Linked DNA regions of Homo sapiens. The protein of the gene in region 1 interacts with the protein of each later gene in a biochemical or structural test. Each region holds a gene or a part of one and is shown on either strand. Other genes may lie near its edges.

Region 1 (3,833 bases):
TTAAAAACCAAAAGACATTTGTGCTGAGCCTTTTTCTAAATCACTGCTCATTTTTCCAGACATCAATGAATGTGAAATTGGAGCACACAACTGTGGCAAACATGCTGTATGTACCAATACAGCAGGAAGCTTCAAATGTAGCTGCAGTCCCGGGTGGATTGGAGATGGCATTAAGTGCACTGGTGAGTAGGAAAGTAACAGAGGTTGCTTATCAAGGACTGCATAGATTACACATATGAAAATATTAATTATGTAAAGTTATTTTAATTTGTGTATTATTGGTTTTAAATACCACCCTTTCTGTTAATAATGATATAACCTTTTTCTATAAGATCTGGACGAATGTTCCAATGGAACCCATATGTGCAGCCAGCATGCAGACTGCAAGAATACCATGGGATCTTACCGCTGTCTGTGCAAGGAAGGATACACAGGTGATGGCTTCACTTGTACAGGTATGTTCACGCTGGAAACAACTGTGTCAACACTAGTCAGAGAAGCCAGGCATTCCACATTTCTCAGGCTAGCAATTCTTTTTTGAAGACTGGGTCAGTTAATAGAAAAGATTCATCATTTGGCACTAGAGCTCTGTGGGAAAAAAAAAATTGGAACCAGGTCAATTAGGGAGACCTCAAAAGCTTCTCGATAGGTAGATACGTAGGTAGATAGATAGATAGATAGATATTTAGGTGCCATTATCACATCATTTACAGTGATCTGTGCTCTAACATAAAATGATACCAAAAAAGTCATACCATTCTCCACCTCAAGTCAGCTAGGCCTTATAATAGTTACAATTGGCATATATATCATTATATGACTGTATATAATGATGTCATTAGTTTAAACAAATCATACTTCCTTTTATATGCCTAGCCTTTATTTATTATTATTTTTTTTTTGCCTATTTCTCACCAATGACTTCCTTTCTGTACCAACACAAGGATAAGCTTGCTGTAGGGAACTATGTAAGGAGAAGGGATTAGATGTTCTAGATTAGAAGAACAGTATGTATTTCTCTCCAACAGGCCATCATCATCATCATTATCGTCATCATCAACATTCCATATTGGTATAAGTAAAAATTTCAAACCTGCTATGGAATTCATTCACTTCCAGTTTTGCAATAATATATTAATGAAATTTTCTTTTTGGCTCTAATTAATAGCCATAGAATTAACATAAACTTCTATACACATGTAAACATACATGATTAGACTTGTCATTACATAAATTATACATATACTTACATGTGCATATATTTACAGACAGCACTTTTTATATCAGAGCTCTGGAGTTAAATAAAATAATAAGATCCATTAGCCATTAGGTCGCATAGCTGCTCCTATAACTTAAAACATTGATTTATCCTGAGCACTTTGTTCATAAAAAGTCATTTAAGCACAATAGAGGCTAAGGCTCATTAAGTGATTTACCTGGAATTTTTTTTTATTCCCTGAAAGTTTTATCTCAGATGAAATCATTTTTGCCTAACTTATTGATGTTTTGTCATCAAAAACCTCCCATCATTTTGAGAACATATTCAAATTCCATGTATTAGGCATGTGTGGTTTATGTGTTTGATATTTAAATGCCTGTGATTATTAAGAAAACTAGGTAGAGATTAAGCAGATGGAATTTTTCTTCTCCCTATGGTTGCCATTCTTTTGCACTTTTGGTGCCCATCTAAGCTAAGCCTGAAACTTGAGAAATAGACACAAACATGATGTGTCATTTCCTGTCATGGGTGTGCCCTCCATGCGGATGACCCTTCTTGAACAGGCCTTAGTTTGCATGATTCCTTCGGCTTATTCATTTTATATCATTCAGGGTAAATTATCATTCAGGATTCTGAATCAGCCACATGTAAATTTCATATTCAGTGTTAGCCTACCAAAGAGAAAAATAAATGACTTTAAATGTGTCAAATTGAAGTTATGCCAAAACATTGCTGCACTGGAAAGTTGATAGACCTGAGGAATTAGAAAGCCCCTAACCGAGGAAGAGTAACGTGTGTTTCTTTCTGGCTGTAGACCTTGATGAGTGCTCTGAGAACCTGAATCTCTGTGGCAATGGCCAGTGCCTCAATGCACCAGGAGGATACCGCTGTGAATGCGACATGGGCTTCGTGCCCAGTGCTGACGGGAAAGCCTGTGAAGGTAACTGATGGGGAAGCCACTGGGAGCCTTGCTGGGCTTGATGAGATTAGGTTATTTAAACATTCCTGATGCTTTTTTTTTTTTTTTTTTTTAAACTGAGGTGTGTTTTAGCTTCATTTCTAAGCTGGTCAGTTCAGTTTGTAGAGGGATTAGGTTTCCAGCTGACCATTTCTCTTGCTGCACAGAAAACCTCAGCTGACTGGCCACAAGCTGTACATCCAGCCTTGGCCGCATGGTCTGCAAGGGTGTATCCATTGGTCAATGAGGGTAACCAAGTGTGGTTAAATCAGTGCAACCCATTTATCCCTACGGAGGGGGATGCAACCTGTTAATCCCTACTGAGGGAGAAAAGAGCTGAAAGTGCAAGTTCCCTGATAATGTCCTGTTGTGGGATTATCACTAAATATGGAAACACAGGTTTTAATCTCCACTGTATTTGGTTTGTAGAAATAAAAGCAGAGCAAATAGTCTTGTCCATACGTAGAATGGTATGTCTCACATTTGCTCTAAATATCTAACATATATGAACATGGAACAGTTTTGCAAATCTGTTCAATAGGGGACCCTTGGGATACTGCCATATGGCATGGTATCGCTCAGCTTTAGGCTCTGTCATTCTGATAAGTGTTGGTCAGACACGAAGAGTCCTGGGAACCTGTTAGCTAAGGCTGGATCCCATTAGGGAACACAAGATTCTTCCCTTTACCCACATTTGTCAAATTTAAGCACATTCTCCTTCATTGAAAAGAAGATTTCAGTAGAAATAAACAAATGATAACGATTGTCAGTAGAAGTTTAAACAAGACCCTGATTAATGTATTAGTTAATAGTTGTTCCTTGTTAACAAGACGTGAACTCAAAATCAGTCATTAGCTATGACATGTATACTAATTCCCTCATGTATTTTTATGTGAATACTTTTCTTTGTTATGGAACCGTTGGGTGTTCTTTATACAGTTTATATTAAATATGCAGAGTTTGATATAAAACTCCTTGGAGTCAAGAAACCAGATTATGCTCTTGATCATGTGCCTAATACCTTGTTTACTTTTGTTACTCCAAATATCCAAGGAAAACAGGTACTGTGCCACCTCTGGTGACACAAATAGTCACAGTGAAAGTTTTGCTTCTCTTATTGCTATAAGAGAAGGTTTTGTTTGTTTGTTTGTTCTTAATATAAATCATGGCTGGTGGAGTGGTCATGGCTATTTAAAGCTAGTCTCAAGCCTGAAAATGTGACTGTGTGTCAACTGCACACGAAGAATGTTAACAGGAGGCAGAGACAGAGGCCTGGAAGAAGCGTGTGCGGTTTTCCAATCTCCGTCAACAAAGGCAAACACATGCCATAGGACTAGGGACACTGGAGATTATGCAACTAATTATGACAGTTCCCTGAAAGACATTGTGGCTTGTGAAATTTTAATTCACAACAAAAACAGTGACTACATAGATAGATTAAAAAAAAAAAACGAATTTAGCGTAAGGTGGCTTGCTTGCCTCTTACTTTACGAAAGTGATGTGGACCTACGTGGAACACTACAAATGAGATATGTATCTATAAAATGCTCAGCCCGCTGCTTGGCATGTAATAGAGACTGAGGAAAAGTAACCTCTCACCTACGAGACTTCACTGTGCATGGCAAATCATCTAAAAGTCTATAGGAGAAGTGCCCA
Region 2 (3,600 bases), on another chromosome or scaffold:
AGTGCAGAGCCAAATCCCAGGGCTTTTTGATATTTGCCATGGCCAGATTTATATCTGGAAGGAATGAAAGAACAATAACAAATTTATTTTCCAGTCTGTGTATTATGAATTTCAATGTTTTCCTGTTTCTTCACATGAAGTTTCCTTTCAGTTGGTTATAAAACCCTGTCTCGTTTATGTTGGAGAAAGAACAGGCTGACTGCAACACAGTGGACTTCAAGAGCTAGTTGAAAAGGCATGCTAACCCCATCTTTCCCCCTACTCCCCGCAGCCCCATTCCCTTTGGCTAGAGGCAGCCCTGGGACAGGTCTTGCCTCAAGCCCAGCCTCTTGGAAGAGCCACAGCTGAGTCCTGGGGGCCAAACAGGTTCCAGGCTAATAGGATTTTCCTAAAATGAAAGAATACCCAAGCACTACTGCCTCACAGCATCACGAATAGCTGCACCTTGTGATTAAAAAAAAAAAACCCTGGAAACTCCAAAAATGAACTAACTATAAGAATAGCTGGGGGGAGGCAGGTTGGTGCTCATAACCGGTCCTGGGAACTTTCTAAAGCAGGTGGGTTCGCCGGTGTTGTGCCTCAGCCTGAAACACAAGGAAAGCCGGAGAGACCAACCAAATACCAGGACTGCCTGTCACAGAAGTGCTGGTCCCCAATCCAGGATGACATTGTTACAGCTTAGTTTTCAGCACACACACACACACACACACACCCCACAGACACATACATACGCACACAAGGTTAATTTGTTCAAAGCAGTATGTTTTCAAGAGCTCGCTGAATAAAGACTGTGGGTGTCATTTAGGTAAAGTTCTCCAAGACTTAAGGATTACTTAACTGTAATTGCAATTTCCTTAAAGAATAGCAAAACATTTGCTTACATGTATCTCTGTCTGCAGTTCCCACTTCTCATTGGCTTGAAACTTCTGTGAGAATCCCACACAAACATAGAGCAAATCCAGCCCCGCGGTGTTCAGCTAGCCTGTCTGCTTGTCTATCAGCCGATGCGGCGCAGTAATTGCTAGTGAACTAGTAATTGGCCTCCCGAAATTTAAAAAATACATACAAAAATCCCTTAAAACGACAAAGTTGCTGCCCTTTCCAGAAAAGAAAGAGGAATGAAGCGCTGAGAATTTCGCAGCCCTCTCTGATGCTGGCTTTTGAAACTGTATTAGAAAATACCCACTCCCAAAAGAACGCTTCAAGATGGAAATTACAGAGGCGCAGCTTTTTATAATTAACAATATCATTGCATCACTAGCTCATGCCTTTTCCAATATCCTGACACCGCCTGAATCGCAGCCATAACCATTTTCCACCCATCGGATTTTTAGCAAGGCTTCCAGACCCTGGAGAAAGAAAAGTCCAGCGCCGAGAACCCACCTTTTTATTCCTGGCATGTCCAAGACGCGCGAGGAGGAGATGCGAAGGCGAGAAGAAAGCTCGCGGGCGGGACCCCCGGAGGAGCTCGGGCACGTCGGCCTCCTCTGGGCCCTCGGGGCTCGCGGGTGTTTTATTCCAGAGGGGCCGAGCGAGTCGTGGAGAGGACACGGGGAGAGCGCCGGGGTCCTCCCAGCCACTGCAGAGCCCTCAGCGCAAGCACCTGGTTTTGCTTAGCCCTCTTCAGTAATTCAGCATTAAACCAATTGGAGGAGGAATGTTAAAAATGAACACTTCATTTTCTAAGTATGTTAAACAATGCAAATGGGGCCTCAGTCTGGACACAGCTGGTTCAGATTACAGCGCTCACCAACTGGCTAGACTCCTCACAACAATCTTGGGGCGTCTGCCAGGGCCCAGTGCTCGGCGCTGGGAGGAGAGCCCTTCCCCGGCCGCGCTCGGCTGCGAGCGCCCGGGCAGAAGGCGAGGGGCGGGCGCGCGCAGGGGTGCGGGGGCTGGGAGGGCCCGGGCCCCTTGACCTTCCCACCCAGGGGCGGGGCGGGGCTGGCAGCGCGGCCCGGCGGGGAGGGGCGTGCACGCCCGCGCTGCGTGGCAAGGGGACCCGCGAGAACGTTGTCGCCTCCGGAAGGAAAGGGACTTGAACTCACGACCCACGCAGCTCCAGGGACTAGAAACTCACGATCGATTGGGAAACCAGAACCTACGAAGCAGAGGCTTGGGGCGAGCGACGGGAGAGTCGCGATCTTCCCGAAGAAGGGGTGGGGAGCAGCGGGGTGGGGTGGGGGGGAAGAGGATGGAATCCCGCTGGTGCGAATTCCAGACTTCAGCTTGTGCAATGCAAGTCTTAGGACGCTTTTCTCTCCCCGCCCTCATTCCCCGATTCTCCCTGGCATTTTCTCGCTTTCCTGGAAAAGTGTCCCCTGGCTCGAAAGTGATTTTAACAAGTTAAACGGTGATTTGAAGAAGGGACAGTCTGGAAAAGCAGAATGGTGGAGACAGCACATAAGACATGCTGAGTCCTTTGCATTCATTCTAGTGGAGGCTTCAACCTGTTTCTTTTTCCTGTTTGTTTGTTTGTTTGTTTGTTTGTTTTTAAGCCATTGGAGTACTTTTGTCAATGAAATCTTACAGAAGGCACTCACTCTATAAAACGCCAGTGGATGGACTGTGGCCTATCCCATCTGCTTCCACCTGCATCTTCCTACCTGCAGCCGAAAAGCCCTGATCCAGGTCCCCTGTCCTCACCACCACTCTAAGCAGTAGGAATGATCATCTCCATGTTATTAGAGGTGAAGATAAGAGAGGTTAGGTAACCTCCCCATAGTCACGCAGCTATTCATTGGTACAGCTGAGCCTCTGGAGTCTACATATTTAGCCTTCCCTAAGGCATTTTTGGGGGTAAGTAAATGGAATTCTACCCAAAGGAGAATAACAGAATGTGGATAGTTGTTGAAGCTGTGTCCATTATACTAGTCTAATCTATTTCCTTTTACGTGTTTGAAATTTCCTGTAAAACACTTTTTTAAATACCTTATGTTTATAAGGTTGTTCATCCCCCCATTGTTTGTAAAAGCAAAAGATTATAAACACCTTTAAGGTCGATCAGCAAGGCACCAATAGGGTTAAATAAAGTAAGGGGCTTCCAAAGGGACTATTGTGCAACCAATTAAAACCTAGACACTTAAGAGTCCACATCAAACGACTCCATTTATATAAAATTCAAAGTCAGATAGTGACTGGGAGGCAGCCCAGCCCCTTCTGGGTGCTGGTAATAATCTAATGATTGATCTGGATGCTGGTTATGTAGGGGTGTGTACATTTAATATTTGTGAAGTCTTATGTATGTTATATCTTATTTTGAAAAAAAGACTGAAACAGCTCCGTATGCACTGCTATTGAAGGGTTTCCAATATATTTTGTGGGTCAAAACAGTAGAATATTGGTAATTTCACATAGATTGATCTAATATAGTAATAAATGTAAAAAGTAAGCTGCAGAACTGTGTGTAAAGCATGCCATCATTTGTGGGAAAAAAAATAAATACATAAGTTCTTGCTTGTACACGTACAGAAAAGACATCACCTGAAGGATGCACAAGAAACCATGAGTATTATTGGTCTTAGCTCAGGCTGCTATAACAGAATACCATAGACTGGGTGGTTTATGCAATAACATTTATCTCTCCCAGTTCTGGAGGCT
Region 3 (3,833 bases), on another chromosome or scaffold:
TCTGTATAAGTATCTGTTCTCATCTCTGGTATTAGTGTTTCTGTTCTTTCTCTTCTATGTGTCATTTCTGTTTGTAGAGAAGGATAAATAACTGTGGAAATTCCCTCTACTAATATTTTATCACCAGAATAAGGAAACAATTCTATTTCTGTACGATGCTGTGATGGAAAAGGTGTAGTAGACAGATATTTGCCAAGAAACTCTTCCGTTATCCTACCACTAGTTTGTCTCTCTTCCCAGTCATCCATGGATGATCCATTATTATCAGGCATAATTAAAGGGGAAACAGTTGTGGATGCTGAGACTGACTCCAAGTCTTCTAAATGAGTGTGGATGGTGTCTTCTGAAGTCTTTGACACCGTAATGACTTCAGGAATTTGGTCAAAGATCAAGGTGCTCTCATCAGATCCAACTGTAAGTGTTCTGTCTTCATCATCCTCTTCTCCCAAGGTGAATCCATAGTGACCTGTGGTTACCAATTCAGAAACAGTGCTTACCATTTTCTTTTCAGTTTTGGATTCCAGGATCATTCTTGCAGTTACCAATGGTGTTTCAGTTACAGGGAATTCCTTGGAAGGAATGTGCTTTAAGATTTCCATAGATGTTACCAAAGGACCCACTTCTATTTGTTCAATCTGTGTAACCGATTCTTGTGTTTGTTTATCTTCCACGACACCATCCCATGAATCCGTAGCATAATGAGAGACGCCAGTTGTACTCTGGAGCACTTCTTCCTTAATTTCTGATATGTCTAGCTTTCCAAGAGGTCCTGAAGCAGAAGGTGAGTAGTCATCCATATCCCAGGGCTTCTTGGTACTGCCAGTAGGTGTGGGTAATTTGGTGGCTAAACTATCTGTGATAGCCTGAGGTTGGACTGTGGCTTTCTGTTCAAAACTGACAATATTTCCCACGGGAGGGAACTCTGTTGGAATGACAGGTAATTCATCAACTAAAGGGATGATTGGTGTAGTTCTATCAGAAACCATTTGTGGTTCTTTGGATAAACTGGGTGATGCAGTTTCTGCGAGGATACTCAAATCGATGGTTGTAGCCTCTTTAGCTAGAAAAATAATTTCAAAGAGTTGATTAGACAAGTCACTAATAAAAACTTGTATGCCCAGTGTTTGTTAAGTGCTCCTGAGTATTTTGTAGGGAGTATTTTTGGGTGGCCCAGAAATGTTCTGTGATGGAGAGGAGTCTTAAAACTATACTTGAATTAACCCAAGGACAGATAATTGAACACTTAATAGTCATAAATTGATCAGTTGTTTTACGTTATAAGGGTTATCACTGCTTTTACCTAAAAGTATGCATGACTGTTACCAGTTGAGGAAAATTAATATTATGTAGTTTTAAGATAAGGAAAAGCTCCCAAAAATATAAATGCAGATTTTAGATACAGTAGATTGTTTATTTACCAGAAACTACAGCGTCAACTTGAAGCCTCGCAGGAGAATTTAGTACTATTCTTCTGGAGGCTTCTGTACCCTGTCTCCAGCTTTCTCCACATGCTCCCTTCTTTTCAAGTTGCTGCATATTATCTCAGGGGAGAGGGTGTGTCTCAGATTGCAAAACAACAAAAAAGCCACATGAAATGTATCCAAGTTACATATAAACCATTACATTGTCCATAATGTGGAGACTTTCATAAAAACAGGATATTAAAACTTTTTAATACCACTCTTCACTTGATCCCAGGTGTTGGACATTTGTCTTCATCCTTCTTTCAACTTCATGGTGTAGATTTGTTTCTAATAAATTATAAAATGTGCCTGGCAGAGGCTAGTCGGCATTTGTTGTAGTTCTACATTTTGTTCTATGTTCTACACACTCTGTTTGTATCTCCTAAGGATCTTGTTTCCAGGCTTACTTTAGCCTGAAACACAAATGTAGAACAGGAAGTAAAGTACCCACATAATGTATTTTAGGTCTGTAATTACAAATCACTGGGAACAACCCTAAGCATCAGAAAGAACAGGCTCAGGCAATATAAAGTAACCTGTCATCATAAAATGCTGCATTATAATGGCTCCAGATTTACAGAGAATGGCCTGGCCTGTTGAAAGAAATTTAAATTGTGTATAAAAGCAACAGTTTGTAAACAAGATTCTTTCTCAACACAGGGAAAAGGCAGCAGCCTACTATATAATGATTGTTTTTTTAAAATAAAAATCAGTATTTTTAAAAATAAAAACCTATTAATAGTTGCCACTGAACTCAAAAGAACTGTCCTGAAGAAACCTGTAGTTATTGTTTTGCTACATCCTATAGGACTTAAAGCTAGTTTTATGAGTAAATGCTTGTTTGCCCTGAAAAGAGGTGTAATAGCCATAGTATCTATAGTATCTTCTTTTTTATTTTTAATAATTCCAGAACAGGAGCCCTCAAAAAACAAAACAGGCTACCTTTTAGCTCCATTTGCTCTGTAAAAACTTAATCATAAAATGATGTGATTTTATTGTAAATCAGACTAGGGCTGTAACAGGTTCCTTATTTTTTGTCTGGCACGAGCTGTTATTAGTTGTGGTCATTCCCCAGACCATTTTAAAGCTCAGCTTCACTGATTTTATCATGAACATTTGAGGGCTATTTACATTATGATACATTTAAATATTCTTTAAAGTCTGTCATTATTTATCTTTCTAATATTAAAACAAAACTAACCAAAAAAGAGTTGGAGTTTAAAAACATTAAATAACCTTTTCCTCCCCTTTTTAAAGAAAAGCTTTTTCTACATTCATTTCCTGGAAGAAGCGTTGTTCTATTTTGATTGACATGAACAACTTAAAAACCCAAAATGTGGATGACTATTTTAATTCAATTCTCTATCCTCTGAAATTCCATAACCATTACTTCATTTAACTGCCAAATTTCATGTTTGTCTTATAACTGCATTCTTTGGGGAAATAGTAAAAAGATACATACAGAAAAAGTTCCCATGGAAACATAATATAAATACTTAGCAAACAGCATATTAGAGAAAATTTAATCATATTATTATTAATAACAACAAAAAAGCTAAATTTACTTTTTCCCTCTGAGTATTTCCTTGGCTGATGAAATTAACTTAGAAACAGGTACAATTGCATTAGGGCCAAAGGGGCTGTGAATCCAGGCTTCCTATGTTCCAATCCAAGCTCTCTGCTAGCAACTTTCTACAATGCTATGAAAATATGTTTATAGTGTTTTAAAAGTTGACTCATATTTTTAAAACTAAATAACTAGATTTCATTGTCAATTATTACTATGGAGTTTGCTGTTGCATTCCTTCCTCTAGTCCTGCTGTGTAATAAAGTGGTAGCAATATGTCCTAGAGAATCTGTTCTAGAAAGCCAGTATTTATGTGACTTTGTTTCCAAAAACAAGGGTTTTCAATAATTTTAGAGCCCTATTTTAAAAAAGAAAAGGTCTGCTTATAATTAAGTTAATTAATTCTACTACTTGGAATGGAAAACCTCAGACTTCCTTTTCAGTTTGGGTGGCTTTTTCATCAACTTAACAGCTGATTTTGATCACAAGTCAGTGTATCTGAGGATTTGTGCCATTTGTTTCAACCATTCCACAAAAGGAAATAATTTTATAAAGCACAATATCTACGAAGAGATATTTTAAGAATAAATACCACTGTATTCTGATGACTATTGTAAAGGTAAAAACAATTCCAGATTATTCTAACAGTGTCCTTCCAATAGGTGCATTCACATGGAGAAGTTTTGGCTCTGGAAAACTACCAGTATTCCTTCAACTTTATTATTGAGGAAGCCAACATAAATCAACACGATTCTTTTCCCACAAAAGTTCCTTTCCAACCTTTGCAGCTGTCTGCCCACAGA

The links.
Region 2: the proteins of FBN1 (region 1) and FBLN5 form a complex in vitro, tested with the Homo sapiens proteins (one study listed by IntAct).
Region 3: the proteins of FBN1 (region 1) and VCAN form a complex in vitro, tested with the Homo sapiens proteins (one study listed by BioGRID).

Annotation. Positions count from the first base shown.
Region 1 is NC_000015.10:48,470,877-48,474,709, reverse strand, and holds part of FBN1 (fibrillin-1 isoform a preproprotein), read left to right. Parts: intron 1-59; coding exon 60-182; intron 183-332; coding exon 333-455; intron 456-2,033; coding exon 2,034-2,159; intron 2,160-3,833.
Region 2 is NC_000014.9:91,945,830-91,949,429, forward strand, and holds the start of FBLN5 (fibulin-5 isoform 1 precursor), read right to left. Parts: upstream 1,866-3,600; 5' UTR 1,401-1,865; coding exon 1,384-1,400; intron 1,204-1,383; exon of another isoform or gene 950-1,203; coding exon of another isoform or gene 882-949; intron 1-881. UniProt on the Homo sapiens protein: Essential for elastic fiber formation, is involved in the assembly of continuous elastin (ELN) polymer and promotes the interaction of microfibrils and ELN. Stabilizes and organizes elastic fibers in the skin, lung and vasculature.
Region 3 is NC_000005.10:83,516,576-83,520,408, reverse strand, and holds part of VCAN (versican core protein isoform 1 precursor), read right to left. Parts: intron 1,061-3,833; coding exon 1-1,060. UniProt on the Homo sapiens protein: May play a role in intercellular signaling and in connecting cells with the extracellular matrix. May take part in the regulation of cell motility, growth and differentiation. Binds hyaluronic acid.